Regions from separate parts of the Homo sapiens genome. Here region 2 is linked to region 1. Evidence: fine-mapped expression QTL. A gene starts in region 1. The other region holds a variant in brackets. All regions are shown on one strand. Distances are from middle to middle.

Evidence for each region.
Region 2: its variant is fine-mapped to the expression of EBAG9 in whole blood (TOPMed, PIP 0.98).

The regions. Positions count from the first base shown.
Region 1 is chr8:109,538,644-109,541,673 of GRCh38, forward strand. It overlaps EBAG9 (estrogen receptor binding site associated antigen 9), which reads left to right and starts at 1,530. Exons shown (of 7, transcript NM_004215.5): 1 at 1,530-1,818. It overlaps EBAG9UORF, which reads left to right and starts at 1,083. Exons shown (of 1, transcript NM_001436381.1): 1 at 1,083-1,157. The coding sequence starts at 1,083. The coding sequence ends at 1,157. RefSeq lists a silencer at 929-1,478 and an enhancer at 1,539-1,898.
Region 2 is chr8:109,571,754-109,574,253 of GRCh38, forward strand. It overlaps SYBU (syntabulin), which reads right to left. Exons shown (of 7, transcript NM_001099754.2): 7 at 2,225-2,500. Among named protein-coding and RNA genes, the nearest start is that of EBAG9, 33 kb to the left of the region's middle. The variant A/G (reference allele first, on the strand shown) is at 1,306.

The sequences.
Region 1 (3,030 bases):
TTACTGATGAGGAAATTGAGGTGAACAGATTAAATAATTTTACCCAACTTTACACAGAACCATTCCAGAGCACGAGCCATAAACACATCTTTCCCGTCTTGGAAATTAAATTATTAATAAAAAACGTGGTGCAAATTGGAAAGAGGACGGTTGTGGTAGATTATCACAAAGTTAAGTGGGTAGGTGGTTGCTGGGTCAGGGTGGGAGAACAAAGGCAGCTGTAATAAAAAAAAAAATTAAAGGCATATAAAGAAAAAGGCTTGTTGAGAACAATTTGCATAAACTGATTTTGGCCTTAGACCCTATTCACTTCTCCCTCACCAGTCACTTTGCAACTGTGGAGCATAGTATTCTGAGGGTCCCCTGCACATAACAACCCCTTTCATAGCATACAAGATAAAAAGAAGAATCAGGCTGCAAAGAGAGAAGCACTGAAGGAAAGAACATCTCAGGTTGAAAGAAGGGCAAGTCCAGGGTGCATGTGAGGAACAAATGCATGGACACGGTGAAGTGCCACTTCTTCATTTCTAGTTCAACACAATTCAATTAAAAATTACTGGGAGGAGGCTACGTCTTGAATTAAACTCAGCATTCCACATCTTTGAGGTGGCGGAATGACTGAGGGGAGGGGGTCTGTCTAGCCACATCCAAATCTTCCTGAGACAGAGGGAGATCCCTCATTTGTTGCAGTGTATTTTCCTTGGTCGCATCTGACACAGGGGTTCTGTGGGTTGAACAGAAAGGGACTTTGCTGGAGGGGAGGCACTCTGCATAGAAGGAAAGTAGGGACATCTGGCAGAAGCAGGCGCTCCGAGAATAAACAGTCAAAGCAGCTCGCAATAGTCCCAAAAAGCTACCCCTCACCGAACCTGGCGTGCCTGTCGCCGCTTGCCCCGCTCCCAGGGCTCATTGGCTCCCAGTCTCGACGTCAGACCCGTAGCCTCTCACCTATTGGGCCAGCCAGGACCTGAGGCGGAGTGCAGAAGCGAGGGCCTGGAGACAGCCGAGAGCCGCCTTCAAGGAGGGCTGGGGGCGGGGCTAGAGGAGGGGCTGGGGGCGGGTTTCCCGATGAAGGGGCGGCCATGGCAGCTGCGCAGAGGCAACGCAGGCTGCTACGGAGCGCGCGCCCGGCTTTGAATGAGCGGGGCTGGGAGTGAGCGGGCGGAGCGCGAGCTCGAGGAAGAGACAGGCAGCGCGCGTGAGCGCGCCTTGTGTGCGCGCGCGGCCCGCGGCAGCTCGGAGCCTCCGCCGGGCGGGCGGGGAGGGGGAGGGGCAGGTGAGTGTGTGCGGTTCGCGCGTGCCTGGGAGGGGCTTTCCTCTCCCTACCCCCATCCCGACCCCAGCCCTAGCCTCTGGGGCATTGTCTGCCCTTCGCCGTCGGCCCTCCGCCTAGCCGCGCACTTCCCGCCCTCCCACCTTCCTTTCGCCCTTCCACCAGACCTCCCTCGACGCCCGACAGCTGCTCTGGGTACTGTTTCCGGGTCAGGGTGACCTCTGGGGTGAGGAAACTGCGACTGGGAGCGGGACCCAGGCGTGCAGCATTCGCCATGCTCCGCTCACGCGTGGGAGACTGGGCTGTGGGGTACCGGCCCGGAAAGCACGCAGCCTCCAAAGCCGCCTTCCTCAGGGAAATTTGCGTGACCTTACTGCCCTCCGTCTACAGGCCTTGTACCTCTCCAGGCCGATTTTTCCACAATTTAAATCTCAGTTCACCTGGTATCCAGCTCCAGCAACTTAGAGCGTTTCACGTCACGCCGGGCGCCAGGCGTCGGCTTGTATAACCTGAAAACGCTCCTGTTTTTCTCATCTGTGCAGTGGGTATGATTTTTTTTTCATCAACAAATTTCACGTGGGTAATCTGAAATGAAACCACTTAAGTTATGAAACTCTTTCCTTTTGAGTTATTCTGGAGACCTTACTCCGCCTTCGGAACCGCCCCAGTGGTGTCACATACTTGAGGGCCTGACTCTCGGTTGCCAGACATGGCACAGAATGTTCGATTTTACTACCAGCTCTCACACTCCGCTTCTGTTTCCCCTTCTCTTACGGGCCGCTGCTCAAACCTTTATTTATCAAATTTAAGTGAGTTCAGGTAAATTTTATTTTGGGAGCTTTGTAATATTTTCTAACCCACTTCAGAGAGTTATAGTTTGAGGATATTCTGGACTGTACTAGATCATATGGTTTTCAAATTTTGGTATGAAAAGATTCGTAAATAGAGTTTTAGAAATACAGCACCTGTTTAGTATGTACCGAACATAGATTTTGGCTTTGCTTGTTTTGTGAATTGTGATGTATTGAGGCTACTTGAAAGGACCTCTAGCAGTTTACCGAGAATTTCAACAAGAAAAGATATAATACATTTGATCTATCAGTTTCTAATGTAGCATTCTTTTTTTAATTGTATTTTTTTTCCGTTAACATGGCAGAGCTCTCATTCTTGATTTCCTAGAGTTGTCATTTCTTCAAAAAGCCTTAATGAGGATACATTGCCTCATAGTTTTGAATCTCATTCTGATATACCTCAAATTTTTGTCTTTGTAATTTTTAAGGAAATTTAATGTTAAGATTAGATTATATTAACATTGTTCCGTTCTAGAAAGTGTTTTAAAGCAACTAAAGTGTAAAGTAGCGTAAGATACTTATCAAATTGGTGATCTAGAGGGCATTTCAAAAATCGCACTGAGGCAATGTGCACACAATTAAAAGGTTTCTTAAGTAGGATATGATGTAGGGAGAGCCTTGGGCTTTCGGGTCAGTCCCTTTAAATCCTGGGTAAGTGAATCTAAGTCTGTCAACCTCATCTATTAAACGGGAGTAGTGAAAAACCTACCTCTTTTGGTTGTCCTTAGGATTCCAGTGAGGTGATCGAACATTGTCTTGAGCGTTCAAGTGCTCAAGGAATGTTAGTTTCCTTCCATTCAACAAATATTTGAGTACCTACTATGTGCCCGGCTTTGACTGAGACCTATAAATACCAGAATGAGCAAGACTGATGGACGTCCTGCCTCCTTAGTTTCTTGCATTCCT
Region 2 (2,500 bases), 33 kb after region 1:
AATTTCCTATTCTCCTTAATTGTAAAACTTAATAAAACAAAAAAATTCAGCAGCACATATTTCACTTTCTCGCTTCCATTCACTCTTCAACCTGCTCCAATTGGCCTCCCATCCCCATTTCTCCAAGGAATGATGTTGACACAGTCATTAAGACCTTGCTGTCAAAGCCGGTGAATATGTAACTATTCTCATATTAATCTCTTGGTGGGACTTCAACACAATTGACTGCTCCATTCTTCTTGAATTACTCTCTTCTCTTGGTTTTTATACTACTAATCACCTAGTTTTGCTCCTACATTTTGGGCTGTCATTTCTCTGGCTGTTTTGTTGGTTCTTCATCCTCCACCTCTATCTAAATATAGAAGTACCTCAGAAATCCATTTTTGACCTTTTTTCCTTCTCTACACTCTTCCTGGATGACCTCACTTGTTCCCATGGTTTTAATTACCACACAAATGCCAGAAAGGTTCAATGTTATAAGTCTAGTCCTGACAGCTCCCTTGATTTTCACATTTATATATGCAGTTACTCTTGATATCTTCACATAGATGTTTTAATAGACATCTCAGTTTTATTTTTCCCAAACTTGTTTCTCTTGAACTCTTCCCATTCTGAGCAAATATGGCCGCCATTGATCCAATTGCTCAAGCCAAAAACCTGAGTCACCCTTATTTTTTTTCTTTTCCTTACTCCACATTTAATCCATCAGCAAATCACATTAGTTCTATCTTCAAGCTATATCTGTAATTTTTCAACTTAAACTCTGTATCTACTTCCACCTCCAAATTGGCATCATCTCTCATCTGGACATTACAATAGACCCCTAAATGGCGTTCTTGAATAAACTGAAACCTCTACCATGGTTTGTGTGGCCCCATATGAAGCAGCTTCTTGTCTACTCCAACTTTCTCCTTCCTTCTCACTCTGCTCCAGCCACACTGACCTCCAGGATGCTCCTGTCACACTCTGAGTCCTTTCTGTCTGACGGCCTTTGCATTTGTTCCTCTTGCAACAAGATTTTGTCCCATATTTTTGCATGATTGACTCTTTTTCATCCATTCCCACCAATGTTATTTCTTCAGAGATGTGTTCCTTACTTTCACCTCTGCCACACTTGGTCAAAATACCTTATTTCCTTTGAGGCATTTACCACTATCTGAAACCATCTTTTGTTTATTTGATGGCATGTTGTGTCCCTCACAGACACAGAACATAAGCTTCCTGAGGACAGAAACCTTTTCTGTCTCCTTCACTTTTTAAGACCCATCCTGGAAAGTGCCCAGTTAGCATCGGAGTACCTGGTAA[A/G]TATTTGCTGGATTAATTAATTCATTCAACAGCAATTTTTAGACTTCCCACTATGTGCCAGGTGCTGTACTAAGTTATTGTTAAATTTTAATTTATTTGTAGAAAATTAAAATATTTTAAAAATATTTTGTGGGTACCCAGTAGGTGTCTATATAGGGCTCATGAGCTATTTTGGTACAGGCATGCAATGTGTATGCAATAGTCACATCATGGAAGATGGGGTATCCATCCCCTCAAGCATCCTTTGTGTTGAAACGATCCAATTATATTATTTTAATTATTTTAATATATGCAATTAAATTATTATTGATTATAGGTTCCCTGTTGTGCTATCAAATTCTAAGTCTTATTCTTTCATTTGTTCTAGGTTCTTGACATACAGCTGTGAACAAAACAGAACAAAGATCCCTGCCCTCATGGAGCTAATATCTCAGTGGGAAAGATGGGTAATAACCAAGGCATTGTAAGTAAAAGGGTGGTATATTTAAAGGTGTTAAGTGCTATGGAAGAAGAGTTTCTGGATGAGAACTTGGGGTATTATCCAGCCTCTTTATCCTCCCTTTGTGTGGCAAAGTAGAAAAGGCATTTGCTTTTGCAAACACTTGAAATCGTGGCTTCTGGAGATGAGCTCTGAGATCCTGAACATTTTTCCTCTTTGAGGCTTAGTTCCCTCAAAGATATGTGTAAAATACTAATCTCAAAATTTTGGTGTAAGCACTAGATGAACATAGATCAAATACCTTCTCATCCCTTCCCAGCCACCCACCCTCATCCTATCATTCTGGGGAAGGAAGCTATATGGCACTACCATATTCTCCCTCTCCTGAACACCTAGCATGCTTAGATCAACCCAATGTTCCTGAAAACACTCAAGATGTACTTACTGCATAAACATATGGACAAAATAGTGTATGGGCAATTTAAAAGTAAACAAATCTACTTTTATTCAGAAATGATGCTTTTTAAGTAAGGGTAGGAAATCTTCATTTTCTTTAATAACTAACTCTTTTTCCCTCTTCCTAATTTAATTCAATTTTTACAGACCCCCTATTGATAAAGATGTAAGATCTGCTATTCATTGTCTTTCTTATACATAGAAGTAAAATCACAGAAATAATTATTATTTTATGGGAGGATAAAACATTTATTTAAATGGAAACACTAATCTTTATTTTCATCATGCTGAAGTGTGTGG